Homo sapiens: one gene and its partners. The protein of the gene in region 1 interacts with the protein of each later gene in a pairwise test. Each region holds a gene or a part of one and is shown on either strand. Other genes may lie near its edges. The genes, in order: CEACAM3, NINJ1 and CNIH3.

The links.
Region 2: the proteins of CEACAM3 (region 1) and NINJ1 interact in binary tests that used the Homo sapiens proteins (3 or more experiments, as listed by UniProt).
Region 3: the proteins of CEACAM3 (region 1) and CNIH3 interact in binary tests that used the Homo sapiens proteins (3 or more experiments, as listed by UniProt).

The regions. Positions count from the first base shown.
Region 1 is NC_000019.10:41,792,412-41,799,611, reverse strand, and holds the start of CEACAM3 (cell adhesion molecule CEACAM3 isoform 1 precursor), read right to left. Parts: upstream 3,026-7,200; 5' UTR 2,935-3,025; coding exon 2,871-2,934; intron 2,024-2,870; coding exon 1,664-2,023; intron 1-1,663.
Region 2 is NC_000009.12:93,131,209-93,139,087, forward strand, and holds the start of NINJ1 (ninjurin-1), read right to left. Parts: upstream 3,044-7,879; 5' UTR 3,010-3,043; coding exon 2,935-3,009; intron 2,386-2,934; exon of another isoform or gene 1,804-2,385; intron 334-1,803; exon of another isoform or gene 277-333; intron 1-276.
Region 3 is NC_000001.11:224,619,305-224,626,409, reverse strand, and holds part of CNIH3 (protein cornichon homolog 3), read right to left. Parts: intron 1-7,105. UniProt on the Homo sapiens protein: Regulates the trafficking and gating properties of AMPA-selective glutamate receptors (AMPARs).

The DNA of each region.
Region 1 (7,200 bases):
CATCTGAGAGGGAGGCCCGGACATTCCTGGCACTGACTCTGTTGACACAAGGGATTTAGTTCTAGGTTAGGCTAATGTGTTAGGCTATTTTTTGTTACTATAAGGAAATGTCTGAGGCTGGGTAATTTATAAAGAAAAGAGATTTAATTGATGCAGGGATCTGCAGGCTATACAGGCATGGCACCAGCGTCTGCTCGGCTTCTGGTGAGACCCAGCAAGCTTACAATCATGGTGGAAGGAGAAGGGGGAGCAGGTGGTGTCATGTGGCAAAAGCAGGAGCAAGAGAGAGTGTGGAGGCGCCACACACTTTTAAAGAACCAGATCTCCTGTGCACTCAAAGTGAGAACTGACTTGTCACCAAGGGGATGGTGCTGAGCCACTCATGAGAAACAGCCCCCCATGATCCAATCGCCTCCCACCAGGCCTCACCTCCAATGTTGGGGATCACATTTCAACATGAGATTTGGAGAGGATAAACATCCAAACTATATCAGGAAAAATTGATTAATTTTCCATTTGCCCCTTACTCTCCAGACCAAAATCTCCCCCTCTGAGATGTGGATGCCCAAGAAAAAGGAAAGAGAACTTAGGACTGGTCTCAGGCCTGCAGATGTCTAATAATAACGCCAGCCGTCCCCTGGTGGAGAAGAGGCAGCTGTGGCTGCAGAGAGACCTCGTGTGACTCTAATCTGACACCTTTGACTTGTGTGACCCTAGTCGGTGACTGTCTCCCTGTTCCTCAATTTTTTTTTTCAATAAGTAGGATAAGTGCTATTTGGCTGTGACGTTGTTTGTGAATTAATCTCAAAATATTTACAATTACTTGACCTCAGCTGTGTATAGAGGAGCTGCCCAAAGGAACAGCATCTATGCTTATTTGCCTCCAAAAGAGAGGTCCCTGAGTCTGATCCCTTGTGGAAAAGGAGCTGCTGGGAGCATCTTCTCTCTTCTTTTTCCTCCCCCTGGGGATACTGAACTTCCCATGGAGTCATCTAAGTTCCCCTGGGCAGTGGGCTCATGCCCTAGTAATCTTGTCCATCTGTTCACTCCATGCTGAGTCTCAGGTAAAGGATGAGGCCCTGTCCTTGCCCAGGAGAGGTTCTTGGGGCTGGACCCTGGCTGGTGACCAACTCCAGGAGCCACGACCCTCAGACAGCTGGTAAATTCTTGCTCCCAGTCAGCCCTGCCCAGGAGGCCTCACTCAGCCCTGGCACAGGATCCCTAGGGTCCCCAGGGTCACCTGGAGTCAGGAATCTGGGACAGGGATTTGCACAGGGGCTCAGTTCTGGGAAGAGTTGAGCTTCTCTCTGAGAATCCTAGGGGGACCCCTCAGGCCAGGCCCTGATCCAGTTCTCCAGGGTCTTTCTTAGGGTCAGGTCCATGGGGAGACCATGGGGTTCTTTTCTGACACTGACCTTGCCCTGCTGAGTCCCCCCATCAGACTGTCCTTCCTCTGCAGCGAGTGTCTGCAGGGTCTGGATGCAGGAAAGGAATTCTGATCTGTGGAAGTTTGTCTCCCCCGTGTGTGTCCTGCACTAAATGTCCAAACCCTGATACAGAATGTAATGCAGAGAGGGCCACAGGCACAGCCCAGGCCTGACAATCCCATATGTGGGAAGTAGAACTGACCCCCAACACCCAGAGGTCATGTGGAAATACTCACGGTATACATGGAACTGTCCAGTTGCTTCTTCATTCACAAGATCTGACTTTATGACTTGTAGGGTGTAGAATCCTATGTCATTCTGGGTGACATTCTGGATCAGCAGGGATGCATTGGTGTATATTGTCTCTCGACCGCTGTATGCGGCCCCTGGGGTAGCTTGTTGAGTTCCTATTACATATCCTACAATTAGACTGTTGCCATCCACTCTTTCCCCTTTGTACCAGCTGTAGCCAAAAAGATGCTGGGGCAGATTGTGGACAAGTAGAAGCACCTCCTTCCCCTCTGCGACACTGAGCGGCATGGATTCAATAGTGAGCTTGGCAGTGGTGGGCGGGTTCCAGAAGTTTAGAAGTGAGGCTAGGAGGGAGAAAGCATCAGTCAATATTGGGACCCATGTATTGGGATGGAAAGATGGGGCCCTGGGTCCTGAGAGAGTCTCTTCACCCTTCAGCCTTGGAGAGTGTATGTGTGTCCCACTTGGTCAAGGTCAGTAACGTGACCTTTCTTTCTTCAGCACCTCTAACCTTGGCATTTTCCTGTGTGGAATCCCCTTCCCCAGGGGTCTGCATGGCTCCCTCCCCACTGCCCTCAGATCCTGCTCACATCAGGGCATCCTTGGGAGATCCCTCCCCTGACACCTCCTCTAGAGACCCTGGGTCTTCCCTTTCTGACCTTTTTCTGCTCTGTTCCCTCCAGGGCTCTTGTCAACACCTGAACTCACATTCTAGATCTCTTTGGGTGTCTATCTTCATCTCTGCAAGAGTGTAAGCTCTTTGAACACAGAGACTTGTCTGATATTTGTTGTACGCCAGTGCCTAAAATTTGATTGCAAATACTGGTGGATGAGTTAAGGAGTGGTGGTTATTTTGCAACTTGTGGTTGGTGGTCAAAGACAGGTTTTAGTGCCCTGGTTATATTTTTATTTAAAGTATCACCCTGATGTAATTCTTATTCTTATCATTTTCTAATTGTAGTGGCCAGTAATGATTAACTTGGAAAACATGATCAATGGATTTTCCTCCCTCTTATCAATCCCAGTTCAATGTGATTGTCTTGTTGTGACCCGTGTCCCTCTCTGATGTTCTCTCCCCTGAGGCTTCAGCAGAAGCCTTCTGTCCCCTATCAGAGCCCCATCCTCCCCAGGAGACCCCAGCCATTCTCTGTGATCCCTCCTCTTGCCCACTCCCAGGAATCCTCCACTCACCTGTGAGCAGAAGCCCCTGCCAGGGGATGCATTCTCTGTGGGGAGAGGCTGAGGGGGGCCCCATGGTCTCTGCTGCCTGCTCTTTCCTCCTCTGTGGAAAAGAGCCTGGGCTCCAGGAATGCTGTAGTCAGGGCTACTGTGACTTAGGCTCTGCTGTCCTTCCTCTTTCCATGCTGAGCCTCCTCCCAGGGCAGGAGCACTTTCCAGGGTCATGGGTGAAGCTCTGCCCAGGTCACCTCTCTGTCCCCTCCCCTCTCAGTTTTGCCTCATTTTCTCTTCTTCCTTTCTCCCTTCTGTCTACATTTGAGTTCCCCAGACCAGGCTCTGAGAAGCAAGGCTTACTTGGATCCCTGTTTCATAACAGGATGACCCTCCCTCCCCAGCGTGGACCTCTGCTCTGCCTTGGCCTTGGGTCTGTCAGCACCATGCAGAGTCCCTGGGGTCCCTGAACCTGGTGTTATTTTCTCTGTGACGGAGAAACTCCTTTGTGTGTGCAGGGTCTTCTTACTGTTCTCACATGTCTGGGAAGGTTGGATTTACTCCCAGCAAGGAGGTCACAGAGATGTCTGGGGTCCTACAAATGGATATATCTAGGGCTAAAGCCCGGATCTAAGATTCTGAGCTGTTCTTTCTGCAGCATTATGTGACTCTAATTTCCTGGGAGTAACTGAGAATGAGGCTTCACAGTGCTGTAGCTTTATGTCATCCAGACACCAGACATTTCTAGGCTGACTTTATGATTTTCTCTCTAGCTTGTACCACCTTTATTATTATATATTTCATCCTTTTTTCTAAATAAATTTAGTTTACAAAACATCCTGTCCTAGCAGGGATCGGTGGCTCAGATCTGTGATCCCAGCTACTCGAGAGGCTATGGTGGGAGGATGGCTTGAGGCCAGGAGTTGGAGACAAAACATCCTTGTCTTATGCAATATTGTCCATGAAATTACAGATTTGATGTGTGCTTAAATGTTTTCTCAATGTATATTAAAATAAACGCATAAGTATTAAAGTTTTTAAAAAGCTTACTTACGTTTCGCCTAAAATCAGTTTTTGGAAATGCTGACACAGTGGCATAAACATGAACTTTATGTCCAGATGTACCTGGGGACAGCTAATGGTTCTGTCACTTAACTATGTTGACTTGGACAAGTCACGTGGCTTCTATGATCCTTGATTCCCTGATTTGTAAAAGGAGGATGGTAAAATCCTCCTTGCAGAGTTGTTGGGAATAAGTGAGCTGCTGTGGGAGCCCCGTGCCCAGGCGGGTGTTGAGTACATGGTGGTTGTCATCGTGGTTATTGCTGTGGAATTCTGGTTTTCAAAGAGTGTCTACGCCGGAATATTGGGCTTGTGGCTTTCTGCTGATGTGGATGTGTGAAAAAGCTACTTTTGCTTGTTAGAACTTGTGGTGCATCTGTCATTATTTTCATTTCCCAGTTCCACTACCTATTTTCTCTGTGATGTTGGTCAAGTTGCCTAACTTTTCTGTGCCTCATTTACCTAATTTGTGAAATGTGGGTAACAGTACACTAGTGTGGGTGTGTTATTTCCCAGCTCTGACCACTAGAGGGCATAGAAGCACCGGCACCTACTAGCAATGGGCATATGGGCGCCCATGGTCTGTAAACATCATTCTCCCATGAAAGGAACCAGGGTTCCCTGGAGAAATGGCTGATTCCAGGGCTGGGGCAGGAAACCACAAGAGGAGACTGGAGCATCTTGCGGGGCCTGAGAGTAAGGCACAACTTGAAAAATGATGGGGATGTGTGGAAAGTATCACAAATGCCAACTAGAAGAAGCTCCCAATGGCCAATTTGGGGACAATATAGCAACATAATCAATAATAATAGTAATGTAGTCCAACCGATAAATACTTGAGAGTCCATGCTGATATATATATAAATAAGTGAATACATAAATAAATGAGAAAGAAGAACTAGCTCTTTCTTACAGCAGCGTTCCAGTTAATCAGTGTAGAAGCAATGATGGAAGCAGAAAATCACTGGCTAACACCACAGTAAGAATTGTTTATCGGCTACAATTATCTCTGGATTCTAGAAATTAATTGGTAAAAGTATGCTAAGAACAAACTGGCTATTTGCATATTTCCAAAGTACCTGTCCACAAGATACTTATTAATTACAATGAGATGAATAGTAACTTCACAGTAGAGAAACCTGGCAGACACCACCTGAACCAAGCGCTTAAAGTGAACCTCATCGGTAATGAGAGATATAGACATCCTGGGGCTCCGGCTGGGATGTCCTGAGAAAGACACATCGCTTCTGTGCTAATCTTGCCCAAAATGCATAACCTGAAACATCCCAAGGAAACATGAGACAAACCCAAATTGAGGGGCATTCTACAAAACAACTGACCAGACCTCCTCAAAAGCATCAAGGTCCTGAGAGAGGGAAAGAGTGGGAAACTCCCCCAGGTTGGAGGAGGCCTAGGAAATGTGACAGTGTTATTCAGTGTGGGATCCTGGGTTGGACTCTGGAGCAGAAAAAAGACATGACTGGGATGATTAGCAAAATTTTAATATTTCTTTTTTTTTTTTTTGGAGACAGAGTCTCACTCTGTCGCCAAGGCTGGAGTGCAGTGGCTCGATCTGGGCTCACTGCAACCCCCACCTCCTGAGTTCAAGAGATTCTCCTGCTTCAGCCTCCCGAGTAGCTGGGATTACAGGTACCTGCCACCACGCCTGGCTAATTTTTGTATTTTTAGTAGAGACGGGGTTTCATCGTGTTAGCCAGGATGGTCTCGATCTCCTCACCTCGTGATCTACCCTCCTTGGCCTCCCAAAGTACTGGGATTAAAGGCGTGAGCCACCGTGCCCGGCCCCATATTTCTATATTTTAAAATTTTTTGTATCAATGCTAGGTGACTGATTTTGATAATTGCTTTAGAGTTAAGGTTATTTGAAAAAGCTGGATGAAGGATATACTGGAACTCTGACTATTTTTACAATATTTTTGAAAGTCTGAAAAATGAAAAGTAAAAAAATGTAAAATGCATAAGATTTCTGTGAGGATAAAATGAGATAAATGTGAAGTGCTTAGAACAATGCCTGAGACACAGGAGTTCTTAAAACATGTCAGCTATTATTATAAGTAATTTTATGATTAACAAGTAATATTATAAGTAATGAGTCATCTATTATAAATCATATAAAATATGATTTCTTTCATAATATCCTCATATATTCTCATCCATTTCTTTTTTCCCTCTCCCCTGTGAAAAGCATATTGAGCATGTATGTCATGAAAAGATAAAATAAGATTCGATTTTATTTTGAGAATTATTTTGGGGGATGAGGAGGAGTGTCATTTCCTCCAGCTACGAAGTAGCTCAGACTCAGGCCCACATTGCAAAGTTTGCTTGGCTGGGAAACAAAGCTGGAGCCTGGCGGCCACCCACCGACGTGGTTTATGATGGCGCCTCCTGGCGGCGCAGAGAACTTTCCGCAGTTCCTCACCCTCGTGCTTTAGGAGCGACTTAGAAATTCTACACAGTCCATTTATTAAACCCTTTCTAGGTCACGCTGCGGATCATTTAATCTTCACAACAAGATTGTGAGAAGGGATATTTATTCATCTTAAGACGATAAAACAGGGTAAAAAAAAGTGAAGCGACTTGTCAGGGTTGCAAAGGGAGTGACAGAGCTAGGATTTGGATCTAGGTCCCCCTGACTTCCAGGCTGAGTGTAAATGTTCAGGTGAGTCTGAATGTGTGGCCAGGTGGAGAACTATTGGTATAGAGTAGTGGTTGTGGACTGAGGGTGGTTTCCGCCCAGGGGACATTTGGCAATGTTTGGAGACATTTTTGGTTTTCATACCGGGGTGGGGACGGGAGAGAGGGAAGGCTGCTATTGGCATCTAGTGGAAAGAGGCCACGTGGATGCTGCTGAGCGTCTCACAATGCACAGAACAGCCCCCACCGCAAGGAACTGTTCATCCCCAATGTCAATAGAACTGCTATGAAGCCCTTGTCTGACTTAAAAACCTGAGGATGCATTCTTGTGGTGAGCTAATGTTTGCCAAGTGCTGAGCTGGATAGCGTGAGGGATATGGAAACAGTGCACCAGTCTGTGCGGCCAAGGAGTTTGAAATTTAGAAGGGCAGGGGGTGGAGGCAGGAGAGGCATATGAAGGCCTTCAATATAAGGCAGCAGATGATAAGTGCAACAAGACAGTGTCCAGTAGGGCTAAGCAGGCTCTCAGGAGGCAGAGCACTCATCTACGTGTGGGAAGAACTGAGCACTTGTCTGGCCTGTGGAAATGTGGTTTTGAGCTGGGCATGTGAGCAAAGTTGAGCTGATGGGAAAA
Region 2 (7,879 bases), on another chromosome or scaffold:
GTGTTCCTGGCAGGAAACCCCAGCAAGACAGCAGGAAGTGCTGGAAGGCGGGGTTCCCACCACAGCTGGGCCAGGCAGACCCACTTCCCGCGGACTCAGCACTGGCCACGAGTGGCCCTGAGACCATGTTAGGGTTGCCTTTTAGAACTTGGCCCAGACCCTGCCGGCCTCAGGATCTGCCAGGAAAGCGGAAATGAGGAAACGAGCAAACCTCCTCCTGGGCAGCTGAGGCCATGCACGGCCCAGACGGCAGGTATACAGGGCACAGCTACCTACCTCCAAGGACCATGCCTCTCGGCCCAGATGTGGCCCCAGGAACCTTCAACCTGCGGGCTGTGAGGGGCAGGAAGGTGTGGCTGGCACCAGATGGCCGTGTCCTAACCCCATCCCCACCACCTCCCTGCCTTGAGACACCCTGGGGATAACAGATTCAGGCCATTTTCACATTAACATTGTTGTTTACTATTCCTTCTGCTGACAGCCACAAGTGAGCTGACTCAATCCCTGGACACTGATGGGGGCCCTCACATGAAGGGCCACAGGGGCGCAGGGCACACGGGGTAGGGGAGACCTGAGAGCTTCCCACGGCCGTGGCCCAACAGAGCCCACCCAGGTTGGAGTTCCACGTGTGGCTCCTCCCTGAGCCTTGTCCACCCTGGGAGGTGAGCAGTTGTGCCCCATTTTACAGAAAAGGAAACTGAGACTCTCCATTTTACAGAAAAGGAAACTGAGGGAGCTGGGCAAAGCGCTGCCCTCTCCAAACCACTGCCAGGGGTCACCAGTGGGAGAGGGTCTCCGTGGCAGGCAGAAGGATGAGGGCGCTGAGTGCTGGCCTGGCTCTAAGCACTTCATATACATCAGCTACTGAGTCCTCACCACTCTCTATGGCAGGCACCGCGACCACACCCATTTCACAGATGAGAAACTGAGGCACAGAGTGCTGACATGATGTGCCCAAGAAACGGAGAAGCAAGGTCTTGAGGTTGGGAAGAGGAACAGGTGTGTTGGGTGGTCCTGGGCCCCCAGGCTGGGTGAGCAGAGCGGCCCTCGAAGTTTTCTACCCCTCAAGGGGAAATGTGCTCATCCTCACACTGGCTCATAGCCTTTCCACAGCTCCCTGGACACCAGACCGTGATCAGGCCTGCAAGGCCCCTCCCATCGGCCTGGCTTCCCATCCCCCCACCTCCTACCTGGCCCTCATGTGCTCTGTGGTCCAGCCTCTGAGCCTTTGCTCCCACTGTTCCCTCTGCCTAGATGCCCTTCCACACATCTCAGAGAGCCAGATCTGCTCACCCACCTTCCCTGCCCTCCAGGGCTCAGAGCCAATGTCCCCACCTCCACAGAAAGCCTTCCCTGACCACCATGCCCCGCCCCCCACGATGGGCTCCCAGCCCCCAGGGAACCCCCTGCTTTGCCCTGGCCTCTCCTGCCCTGTCTGGGCTGGGCTGCTCTCCAACCGCGGCTTGGTGGGGCGGGGCTGTGTCTCTCTCCCTCTGGTGCCCAGAGCCAAGACAGTGATCCGGGAACAAATCCAACCCAATCTCCTCTGGGCTTGAGATGCACCCATCTCAGGAGGCACAGCCTATCCTGCCGCCCGCAGAAGTGAGCAGAGACTGCTCTGAGTGGAGGGCATTGCCCGGGCAAGGTCAGGGTTGGGGGAGGAGCAGTATCCCTTCCTTTCCAAGGCGCTTCCAAGCCACTGACCTGTTTATTACCTGACTTGCTTTCCCCACTTCCCTGAAGGCAGGAGAGACCCTTTGTTCTCTCTTTATAAGACCATGTCTAAAAGGCCCAGCGAGGTGTGGCAACTTCCCAAGGACACACAGCCGGAGGAGCCCCCTGCCTATTGCTCCAAAGTGCTCACACACTGGGGCAGGGCCAGGTCGCTGGGGTCCCGCACACCGGTCAAGTCCTGCAGTGCGACAGCTCCTCTCTAACCTAGGAACAAGTGTCCATGCAGCCCCAGGGCCATCCTATCCCGTGGCTCATGGGGCCCCGCCTCCCCGAACATGTCCTGTCCCCACAGCACCGGCCTAGGACTGTTCACCAGCGAGTGGGCAGAGTGTCTTTGCCCCAGTCTGGTCCACGCCATGGAGAGGCCTGGAAAAACCCAACAGGCTGCTGTTCCCTGCCCCCATCCCTGAGGGGGTTAGAAAAGGAAAGAATGTTCAAAGTAAACAAGTCACCAGAGGGCCATGCCAGGACCTTGCAACAAACACAAGGTGCTCAGTAAGTGCTGAGTCCTGGGATGAAGAATTCTGAAGCGGGACCACTACCAGGGCCTGCCCCCTGCCCACAGCCCTCCCAGGCCGGGCAGGGCAAGTTCTGGAGGGCCGGTGGCGGCATACACTGAAGGCTGTGTGACGTTTCTATTTCTCAAGGCAGGTGAGTGGAATAGGGACCACAGCGGGCCCCAAGTTCCCCCATCAAGGCACGCATCAGATTGTGTGGTCAGCGTGGGGTGACGTAACTGTCTGCATGCAGCTGGTCTGGAGCCCGGAGGCTGTGACTCCCCTCCGCCCGCCTCCGGGCAAAGTGCGCGGAGGAGCCGGCACGGCGAGGCTGAAGTTAGAGAGGCCCGCGCGAGAGTGGGGGGGAGGTCGGGAAAGCCGGGCGCCGGCAGTCCTTAGCCCGAGGAGCTGCGCCGAGGCCCCCTCCGCCGTGCAGCCAAGCGCGGGCGCTGCTTAGTGGGGCTGGGGACGCCAGCCCGCCCTGCGCCCCCACGCCCCCTCGTCCCGCCCACTTGCCGGGGGTGGCTGGAGCTCCCGGGGGCATCGTTCTGACCCTGATGGGGCGGGAAGGACTTGGCCTAGAGCGGGACGTCCCCCAACACTCTGCAGTGCGGACGCGGCGCACACAGGTGCCCGGGGAGCCGCGGCGCCCCGAAAGGACAGGGCCTGGCAAGATCATGCAGCGGTGGGGGGAAGGTCTTACCGAGGCGTCCGGGGAGCCGGGTGTGCCCGGAGGCAGGCCGCCGTTGAGCTCGTACTCCTCGGTTCCCGAGTCCATGGTGCGGCCGCCCAGGCCGCCAGGATCCGGGCCTGAGCGCGCCCGAGCCTCAGCCGCAGGCTCCAGCTGCGCGCCCGCCCCCGGCCCGCCCCCGGCCCGCCCGGCGGCGAGCTGCTGCCCCAGACTCCGCCTCCACCCGGGGCGGGCCCGGGGCCTGGAGGCTGTACGCTGAGAGCGCGCAGTTTGGGGCGACCCCAACCCCTCGGGCCTGAGACGGTCCCGCGGGGCCCCACAAGGGAGGGGGCGCGACGCCGATGGCCCCAGAGGACCCTGCGCTGCGTCTTGCTCTGAACCTCCGTCGCGGACACTTTTAATCCACAAAATGAGGCCAAGAACGACCTTTCCCTGGCCACCAGGCAAACTGCATGAAAGCGAGCGGGCGTTGCCGCTGGCGCCCACGCTGGGTTTTTCCCAGGCGGGGTTCGCCCTGGGAACCGCAGATCGCTCCAGCACAGCGCCTGCTGCGCCCCTAGTAACAGCGTCAGAGAGTCCGGGGTTCCCCTGATTGCGGGCCACGCTGACACAGGGCTTCCCACTCCCTGACCTTAGGTTTTCCTGCCTGGGAAATGGGGGTTATGAGGGCACAGACTGCTGGAGGGGCTGGGGGAGGCACAAAGGGGATGAACGTGCGCTGACTCATGGGCCCATCTGTGCCACCTGTGGCAGGGGGTGGGCTGGGGGCAGCACAGTGCCCAGAGCCCTGGCCAGATGCTAGGCGGGCCCCCACCTGTTGTATGATTGAAGTGGTTGTTTGGTCTCTGTTTCTCCATATGTTCATTCCTCAGCACTTTGCCCATCTGGGGGCCTGGGGGTCGAGAGCATGTGGCGGCCACCCTGGGAGGCCAGGGGAGTTCATCCTGACCACAGCATAGTCAGCTTGCGGCAGTATGGCCACTCTATTTCCAGAAGGGCAGTGGAAGGAAGGCCAGCTCAGACCCCAGGCTCTGTCCAGTCAGGCTGCCACCGGGACAGGAGGTAGGAGTGAGTGGGCATGGGCAGGGCAGCAGGATTGCGCTTGCCCTGATCCTCCAAACGGGGTCATCCCATGAAGGAGGAGCTGTCGTGGGCCCACTTCACAGCAGAGAAACTGAGGCTCAGGCTGTCACTGCCCCAGCTCTGCCTCAGAGGGGATCTGCAGGACAGGGTCTGGCACGGTGGCCCACGACGGGGATGGTTGCTGTTGTCCTCGCATAATCAGGGCACTGTTGGCACACCTGAGTGTTCACCAGCAGCTGGAAATCCAGCACCATTCACACAAAAAACTCTCTCACAGTATGGGACAAATCCCTATTCTGGGGGATAGTGCCTGCCCACGAGGGCTCAATTCCTGGAGGGGCAGGAGGTGTGGGACCACAGAGAAAATACGTCACACCCAGAAAGGGCCCTGGGAGCTGCAGGGGAGCCCTGAGACCTTGGAAGGCCAAGGGCGTGTAGAGAGGCCCCGAAGTAGGAGGGCTTGGCAGGTGGAGACCCCGTCCTGAGAGTATTCTTTCCTTTGTGCCATGTGGGAGCTCCTGCAGTGTGGTTCATCATTCCCATCCTTTTTTTTTTTTTTTTTTGAGATGGAGTCTTGCTCTGTCGCCCATGCTAGAGTGTAGTGGTGCGATCTTGGCTCACTGCAAGCTCCACCTCCCGGGTTCACACCGTTCTCCTGCCTCAGCCTCCTGAGTAGCTGGGACTACAGGTGTGCGCCACCACGCCCGGCTAATTTTTGTATTTTTGGTAGAGACAGAATTTCACCATGTTGGCCAGATCACCTCCTGACCTCAGGTGATCTGCCCGCCTCAGCCTCCTAAAGTGCTAGGATTACAGGCATGAGCCACTGCGCCTGGCCCCATTCCCACCTTCTAAGAGGAAGCCGGGAGGGTCGCAGCACCAGTGACAGTTGGGACATCAGCCTCGGGGTTTGTAAACCTGCTCTGTGCTGGCCGTCTGAGACCCTCTCCCAGCCTCAGTTTCCTCAGCTCCTGGGGCTGCTGGCAGGACGTGTGGGTGTCAGGGCTCAGGCAGGCTGCAGCGCTGGAGTTCCCTCGTCTGCTCCGTCATCCTCATTTGAGTATGTAGTGTCTGTTTTCCCCACTGTGCTCAATGCTGTTTACCCAACTGTTCTCTGCTGGATCCAACCCAGGACAAGTCTTAAAGGCACAGTGTACCCCGTGTCACCTCCATCTACCTTTTTTTTTTCTTTTTTTTGAGATGGAGTCTCGTTCTATTGCTCAGGCTGGAGTGCAGTGGCGCGATTTTGGCTCACTGCAAGCTCCGCCTCCCAGGTTCAAGCGATTCTCCTGCCTCAGGCTCTCGAGTAGCTGGGACTACAGGCGCCCGCCACCACGCCTGGCTAATTTTTTGTATTTTTAGTAGAGACGGGGTTTCACCATGTTAGCCAGGATGGTCTCGATCTCCTGACCTTGTGATCTGCCTACCTCAGCCTCCCAAAGTGAAAGGATTACAGGCGTGAGCCACTGCACCGGGCCCAACCACCTACTTTCAAGTTCTCCTGGAGACCATGAGTGCATGAGCTGTCCAAGACCAGTTTCTAGACGCTGACCCTGAGCTGAGGGACATGTCCCCAGGAGAGACACAGAGGAGGGGTGTGGCTGGGAGGAACGGGCTGGCAGATGCCCCAGCAGAGCAGCCCTATGTGTGGGTGGGTGTGCACACACAAACACTGTATATGTACGAGGGCCCCAGGCCTCTGTGGAGGAGCCCACAGGGTATCTCAGGATGCCTCTCTGGTGCCCAGGGAGGCTTGGTGCATCCCTCTCCCCCATCAAAGACTCTAGTGGATTCTTCTGGGGCTGGCGTTGTGTTGAGTTCAGATCTGCCCCTTCTGGCTTGGGATGTGCTTCCTCATATGTAAAGTGGGTATAAGGCAAGATGGCATGTGAGGACCATGGAGGTGTCACCCCAGCGTGCTCCTCACAGTGCCACCTCAAGCAGGTGGCTCCATCCCGCTGACCAAGAATGAGACCCCAGTGGGGCAGAGAACAGGCACACCGGAGGCTTGGACCTTCTACTCACCCACTGTCCTAGGAGCTGGGACTAAGCACGGTCTAAGCGACCCCCACCGCGTACTATGGGGAGTACAGTTGTGTCTCTCAGACCTGGGGGAACATGCGGTGAAAGCACCAAGCTGTTGAAAGGTCCATGGGTCAGATGGACCATGTTTTCACCTACAGAAAGCCTTCAGAAGCAGCCAGTCCCTGGCCTCCTCCACCTCGGAGAGGCTTGCAGGCAGGTATGCCGTTTCCACATCACCAAGGGAGAAAGCGAGTCTGGCAAGGTGGCGCAGCATGCCCGAGGTGACCCAGCTCTGCATGCCCACCTGCCCGCCTGCACATGCTCTTGCTAACATGAGCGGGAGGAGGACGGGGCTGGCAGTCGGCCCAGGGCAATGGCAACTCCCTGGAAGCCTGTGGTATTGCCAGCACCAGGCGTGGCCCATCCATTCCCCACCCACCTGAAGGAGCTGTTACCTGGCATCAGGGTGGGCCCAGGAGTCTGCATTTCTATCAGGCGGTCCCCAGGGACCACAGCTCTCACTGGGTCAGTGTACAGAGCAGGGAGGTAAGGGAGGCGGGTGTGTAGCGTGGCCACCCCATTTCCAGAAGGACAGAGGAAGGAAGCCCAGGCCTGTGAGGAGGTGCCATGCCATCATCCCCACACTAAAGATGGGATGGCAGAGGCTCAGAGAGCCGAGGGACTTGCCAAGGTCACCAGGCAGGGCTCAGTGGGAGGGGAGGCACAGCCAGGTCAAGGATGATAAGGGGCGAGGTGATGGGAGATGAGCACCACGCAGGTATGAGAGCCTCTCATGCTGTCCACCACAGAGAAGCAATGTGTCCAGGCTGCACAGCGAGGCACAGCTGGCCCTAGAAGGCCACAGAACAACAGAAACAAAGTGGACGTCCACCACAAGGGAGTGGCTAAGTGGATTATGGCCATCTGCATTCGGGAGTGGGATGCCATCGTCTACAGAGCAAGCGAGGCCAGGCCAGCGGATGTGGAGGGGTCCAGCTGCACTGCGGGCAGAGAACAGGCAGGAGCAGGAGGCTGGCCCCTGCTTCCTCTGCTGCACCCTGACACACTGCTCTGTTCCTTCCTGTTTGTGCATCCGTCTCTCCCACTGGGGCTCCCAGGGGCCAGGCTGGGGCTGATGCCACTTTGCATTTATGGACATCTGTGCCTAGCAAAGCTCTTGTCCCCAGCTGCCACAGCAAAGTGGCAGAGAGAGTAGTCATCCCCCACTATCTGTTCTCTTCTTCCTGCTCAGTCACAGGCTGCTGACTTTGAGCTGCACCAGTGGCTTCCCAGAATCAGAGCTGCATTTCTCTCTCCCCTGCAGCTAGAGGTACCCTTATGGCTACATTCTGGCAATGAAAATGTTGTGTGCAACATCAGGGAAGGAACCCTAAACAGAAGGGGTGTGCCATTCTTTATTACTTCCTCTATCTTGCTGGCTGGAAAGTGGATGTAATGGCTGGAGCTCCAACAGCCGTATTGGACCGTGAGGAGACCTTGGCCATGGGAGCCTCAAATAGTGGAGCTGAAGACAGAAGCAACCTGCATCCACAATGCCTGCAGCACAGGCCTCCCTGGGCTGCCCACCTCCAGACTTCTTAGGTGTGAGTAAGGAAAAACAAACAAACAAACAAAAAAACAACTATCCTGTTCAGAGGCTGCTATAATTTAGTTTTTTACTTTTTTTTTTTTTTTTGAGACAGAGTCTCACTCTGTCGCCCAGGCTGGAGTGCAGTGGCGTGATCTCGGCTCACTGCAAGCTCCGCCTCCTGGGTTCACGCCATTCTCCTGCCTCAGCCTCCCAAGTAGCTGGGACTACAGGTGCCCACCACCTCGCCCAGCTAATTTT
Region 3 (7,105 bases), on another chromosome or scaffold:
CTGATCATTATGCCCTGGATTTGTATTCAGAAACCAGTTCAGGATCTAGCTGTGCATTTAGAGTTTTCAGTGACCAGTTTGTGGGAGTTAAGCAGATTCCAAGTGTCATTAAGAAATGCAGGCAACCCTCAGCTAACCCTGTTAAGATGCAGACACTCTGGCTATGAATGATCCCAAACAGCAACCACTTCCAACCCTGCAGATCTGAGTTGGTTACTCATGCAAATGACCTCACTATTTGTAGCAGAGCTCACTTAATGCTTCTTCTCTAGATTAAAACAGTTCAGCTTATTTTTCTAAAGACCCTCCAGGTCCTAGAAGAAGAAGCAACTCAGAAGCAATGTGAATGGCAAGGATTTCAGCCTGGAATTTAATATCTGCCTTATCTAACCCACAAGGGGACTATCTACACCTAGTTGTCAAAGGATGGAAGAAAGGTGTATTTCACAATCTATGATTAAAAAAAAAATGGGTATTACAAGATAGCAGTGGGATCGCTATCTTGAAGCACAAAATCAACATACGTGATGTTGGAGAGACTAGCGTGCAGCCCCCTGCATCAGCCTCGACATCATCCTCTGCTTTTGGGCATAGACATGGGTTGCTGGGCTACAGTCACCATCTGACAGCCCTTTCCTGTCACAGCTCGTCTTCTTTGGTGTCTGTTGTTCACAACCTCTCCCCAGCAGTGCCCTCCTCCACACCTTCAACCACCCTGATCTATCCCATCCACCATCTCCCCTCCACTTAATTCTGGATTGAAGCTCAGTTAGCCTCCCTTACACAGAGAGAGCTACCAAGTCTAGGATTCCATGGGCCTTCAGCAGAGCCCAAAAATGTGCTTTTTTTCTTTTGAGACGGAGTCTCGCTCTGTCGCCCAGGCTGGAGTGCAGTGGCGCCATCTCAGCTCACTGCCAGCTCTGTCTCCTGGGTTCACACCATTCCCCTGCCTCAGCATCCCGAGTAGCTGGGACTATAGGCGCCCACCACCACGCCTGGCTAATTTTTTTTTTATTTTATTTTTAGGAGAGATGGGGTTTCACCATGTTAGCCAGGATGATCTCCATCTCCTGACCTCATGATCCGCCCGCCTAGGCCTCCCAAAGTGCTGGGATTACAGGCGTGAGCCACCACGCCCGGACAAAAATGTGCATTTTTAGTAAGCATCCAGATGATTGTCATAACCAGGTAAGTCTGGGAAAGTATTCATTGAGGAGGAGTCTATCAAGCTTAAGCTGGCTGTAATAAATTATCCAGATCCTTATTTATTGGCAATCACTGAGTTCCCACCATACTGCCCCATGCTGGACACTGAGGCCACAAGTGAGGGCAACAGTTTCTGCCCTCCAGAAGCTTATAGTCCAAGCACAGAGACAAATACAACAGTGGGACTCAGACCTGGGGACAGGTTCAGAGGACAAGTGGACTCAGATCGCCAGGGAGAATGCGGCTTCCTAGAGGACAAAGGCTGCAGCAGAGCCAGTCGGGTGAAGAATGAAGTGGGGAACAGCATTCCAGGGAGACAGAACAGCCCATTTGGGAATTGCAAGAAGGTGAGGATATCTGGAACACAGAAAATGCAAAATGTGGCTAAACAGTTAACCGGGACCTGGTCCTCCCAGCCCTCTAAACTTTGAAAGCGAGAGAAACCAGAAAAAGCTTTAGTCTGGGAATAACATGGAAGGATCCTTTCAGGTATTAGATCACTCTTGGTAGCCATGAGTGGGGTGGTTTAGTCCAGGGGAGATGATAACCAAGGAGGCCAGCTTGGAAGGGACCACGATGCTCTGAGAAACAGCAAATGGGGGCCTGAACCAAGGCAGGGATGGGAAGCATGGAAGGGAGGGGACAGACATGGCTGGTGACTACAGAAGGAGCAGATGGGGTAGAGAGGGTCTCTGGGTGAAGACTAAACCCACTGGGGCTGTGAGGAGTGAGGAGGGCATGAAGACAAGCTCGGCTGGGATCCAACTGTGGGGCATGGGGCAGGTGGCCCCATGGACACACAGGTCAGTGTCGGGGGACAGGTCTGGGAGGCCAGGAAACTACCAACATGGAGAGGAAGGTACAGAAAGAAGAACCCACAGGGGAGATGGAGGAGAAACAGGGCCCCAGAAAAACAACATTTGAAAGCAGTTGCAAAGAAGACACGGACAGCAGTCTCAAAGCCACGGAGAGGCCAAGATAAGCACTAAATGGTGCCCAGAGATTGCCACAGACCACTGATGTCCTCATCAAGTGCTGAGCTGAGAAGGGGCGGGGGCACAAGTCAGGTGGCCAGAAAGGAAACAAGTGTCTTTGGAAAAGAGATAAGATACACAAATAGCAAAATGCTGACACTTGCCAATTCTGAGTGGTGGATGCAGAGGGCTTTGTTTTATTAGTCTCCGTGGTTTCTGAGTGTCTGATGTCAGAATCCAAAGAGGTGACGGCAGGCAGGATGTGGTGAGACAAAACCACTCTGCAAGGGAAGAGAGGTTGAGCAGCATTTAGAGGGCCTGGGGACCAAAGGCTTGTCTGCAGCTCAGAGGCACCACAGCCTTTGAATCTGCCAGGGGGTGGGGACGGGTGGACCTGCGAAGGGCAGTGGCTGAAGACACAGACAGGTGGGGAAAAGTGATGGAGCAATGTCCACAGATAACTAGGAGGGGAGGAAGTGGCCTCAGATGAGGGACAGACTCTGCTGCTTCTGAGTCTGAGAAGGAAAAATAAATCATTAATCAGAATTCTGGGGAGGGGCAGGATCCTGAGGCATCCCTGTCTGATCATCTCTATCTTCTCCAGGAGCTGGAATTAAAGTCATCTGCTCAGAGGCAGTCAGGGGTGGGGGACAGTTTTGGGAGCTTCAGGGGGCTCTGAGAAAATGACAACAATCTACAACAGTGTTGTGGAAGCTGAAGGAACTGACTCACATCCAGCTGATGAGTTAGAAGGCAATACTGAGGCCAGCTAAGGTCAAACCGTGCATCCGCCTGGGACCCAGCAGCTCCCGGGTACCTGGGGTGAGAGAAGAGAGGGAAGAGAGTAGACTCCTGGGAGACTGAGGCATCCACTACAGGAGCGACAGGAAACAGAGGACGCAGCAGTGGAGAGCAGCAGCAGGAGCTAAGTGGTGGATGATGAGGGGTAATGACACAGAGGAGGAAGTAAATCCTAGAGGAGCGATGCATTGAGAGAAGAAGGAAAAGCCACAGTCAAAGGAGGGCCAAGAGCCCCTGGGGCAGCAGAGTGCGGGAGTAGAGAACAGGGAGCTCACTGCAGAGGCAGGTCCAGGGCAGGTCAGGGGGCTCAGGGACCACAAAGATGGAAGTGGTCACTAGAGGGGAGGTCAGATAACCAACAGCACCCAGCACCTTGCAGGACAGCAAGGACAGGACAGTGACCAGGAGCCAAGTCCTCAGTGGTGCCCAGTGGAGGGGCCCATAGGAGTGAGTCAGATGATGGTGGCAAAGGCACCATCCAGATAGCACAGCTACTGAAGAATAAGGCCCCAGAGGAACCTGTTTGCAGACTTACTGGGAGAGAGGTCCACAGCAGAAAACAAGTCCAGAGGGCAAAGCGCAGAGCCATGTGGATATACAGAAGGGAAAAGCACCAGGTAGCCAGAGGGGCTAGAGTGAGGCAAGGGCCTGGGCACAGCTTCAGGGCCAGTATAGGCAAGAGCTCCAATTGCCTGGCAAGAGCCTCACAACATTCACTGCCTTTAATGTTTGTTCAGTAACTCAAAAGTCAAAGACAAGTTACTTTAGTGTCTCTAACATCCAACCCCAGTGAGGCCTTGAAACCTCACCAAACAGTTGGGATTGGGGCTGGTTCCTGATTGTTTTAGGTGACCTGTGAATTCTGCACACTTCTCTCCTCTCCTCTCTAACATGACTGCAGTGGAAATACAATGATGACGTAAGCTTTCTTTTTCAGGGAGAGTTATTGCAATGCAAACAAGGATAAAGCGGCAAGCAACGCAAACAATGATAAGGTGCCATGCATCAATCCAGACATTACATTTTCCAGAAGGTGTTCTCTCCAGGGATAGCCAGTGCTTCTCCCCAATCTGCTCCTCTGAAAGAGAACCAGCTCCACTATCATCAAGAAGGGCCCTATACCCCATGGCAATGGCCAGTCTTCTTTGCAATAATTAGCTTCCAAAGTTTCAAAGTGCCAAGGCATGGGGGAAAATGCACATTGTCCAAACTACCCAGAAAGTAGTCCTTAAGAAGCAGCCAGAAGCCAAATCAGAAACGAGTTACTGTTAGTCTGTTCTCCCACTGCTAATAAAGACATACCTGAGACTGGGTAATTTACAAAGAAAAGAAGTTTAATGGACTCACAGTTCAGCATGGCTGTGAGGAGGCCTCATGATCATGGCAGAAGGTGAAGGAGGAGCAAAGGCATGTCTTACATGGCGGCAAGCAAGAGAGCATGTGCAGGAGAACTGCCCTTTATAAAACCATCAGATCTCATGAGACTTATTCACTATCATGAGAACAGCACAAAAAAAACCCCATCCCCCACGATTCAATTACCTCCCACCAGATCCTTCCCACAACACGTGGAGATTATGAGAGCTACAATTCAAGATGAGATTTGGGTGTGAACATAGCCAAAACATATCACTATGTCAACTGGAAATGCGTCAAGCCAGAAGGAAACAAGAATTTGTCCTATGAGTATTTATACCAAACACTCTCTATGTGTCAGGCACTGTTCTGGGCTCTGGAGAAACAATGGTAAAGTAGAAAACGTCCCTGCTCTCATGGAGCTTCCTTCCACTTCAGCTGTGGGGCAATGGACAGTGACGGAGGGAGGAGATAAAAGGGGGATGGAGCAGGCTGGAGCTGCGGACATCCCACCTGAAAGTGAGATGCCAGAACGGACAGGGGCATCACAAGTAGAACAGAAAGTGGAGACCAAGTAAGACCTGGCAGTGAGTGCAGTACCCTCATCTGAGTAGGCCAAGGCAGGGTCATAAAAAAACAGGCTATTTATTGTCAACCCCAAGCATCCTACCATTTCACATAAACCCATTTTTTGTTTCCAGGTGGGTACTGTGAGAAACTGAGATGTTTACTAGACTTCCAGAGGCTGAGCCTGTGACAAGGTGGAACTGGCAAAACACTCCACCATGAAGACATCTTCTCTAACAAAACTGCCTCTCGGCACATATGTATGTCATCCCTGTCCAGGGCCATTTAAACCCTCAAACAGCAAATGCTGCTGTGAATCCAAAGAAATTTCAAGGTGAGATGGTGCATCAGATCTTTCTAGGGAATTTTATTGGGAATTAATTTTATTTGTAAATTGTCAAAACTCATAGTGACTCCAAATATAAAAACTTCAAAAGCTAAAGACCTGAAATTCAGTACTGAATCTTTGATCTTTTCAAAGAATAGCTTCATCTGTGTTTATATAAATGAGACACACTGCAAACAGGCTTAACCGAGCCGGAGCAGAGAAGGCTCTTGTGAGTAAACACCATTCATTTTATACTGGCTGGAAATACATATCACTTCACATCAAAAACCCTTTAGAACGCTTTTTTTTCCTTCTAAACGTCCACATGCAATTTTTTTTTCTTAGAAATGGGGTCTCACTATGTTGCCTAGGCTGGTCTCAAACTCCTAGGCTCAAGTGATCCTCCTGCCTCAACCTCCCAAAGTGCTGGGATTACGAGCATGAGCCACTGAGCCCGGCCATATGCAATTTTTTAAAATACACAAGAGATAATCTTTTCTGGATAAGATTACTGATGATTTTATTTAATTACAAATCATTGTATTTTCAAAATTTTGGACAAGGAACCTGTATCATTTTATAAGCAGAAGTCTAATTTAAATAAATAGAATTTTCCTCTTTTAAAAAAGGATATATAGCATGTCTTGAGTCTGGTTGCTGTTGCTATTGTAACCCCAATCAGAAATTCCAACTCTAAAATTTCATTTATACAGAGAAAGGTAATCCTTTGGATATAAATTATTATCTAAGTTATGAATCCAAAAATAGTGACTACAGTTAGAGAAAGGGCTTAGGCTTAAGAGTCTCACAGACCTAGCTCAAGTCCATGCATACCAGCTCCAATACATATCAGCTGTGCAACCTTAGGCAACCTTGTAATCTCTCTGATCCAGTTTCCTCATCTGCGAAATGTCCGTTATGAGGACTAAAGGGCTGCCTGGGCAGTAAGAGGCCAGGTGCCTGAGGGTATGCAAAGCCACAGAAAAAACCTAGTTTTCTTCTGCTTCTTCCAAATGTGATAAATGTACTCAGAGATAGTAGCTGATATAAAATAAATGGGTAACTTGAAATATTTTCAACTGAAAACAAATGCAGATAAATTTTCAAAGTAAAAAACAAGACTTGAAAGAAAGGCTGGCCACATCCATCCTTGCTCCCAGACATCCAGTGGGAAAAAAGGGGAGGAAAACGATTGGACTGAGAGATCCTCTGTAAAGTACTTAAAACTTGTCCTACAGCAGACACCCAATACATAGTAGCTACCATCATTACCCCTAAGTAGGTACGTACAATTCAATAAGAAAAGCACGCCATCTTCATATCTTACAGCCTAGGCATGGCAGCATGGCAGGCATTTTAACCGCTATATGTTGTTAAGCGCCCAATTCATTTTTTGGGGTACTGATATATATCACACAATCAATATGCCTTGTCCGATCAAGAAGTACATAAGTAATATAAGAAGCTGGAAAGAAGGCAAACAGTCTAACATAAAACCAAGTCTCCTCAATTTTGGTTGAAATAATTACTACCATGTAACTAACACCCAGACATACAAACCGTGCCCTGAAATCAGGGTGTCTCTGGTTTCCCAGTTCAATGTTCAGGAACCAAATCAGTGTGATGGGGTTTGGGTTGTTTGATTTGGAGAGAGGGAAAGGGATAGAGAAGGAAAAGACTAGGAAAGGAGGGACTGAGACTATGAAATTATTACCGTAATTTGAAATCAAAACGCACAAATTCTTTTCATTATTAGAAACAAGAATCTTGCCACTTCCACGAGGAATCTGGATAAAACCTGAGTTGGAATTTGACTGCATTTCAGCCACCCCTCGATAAGGGGGTGAGCATTGAGAAGCTGGAGGATAGAGCC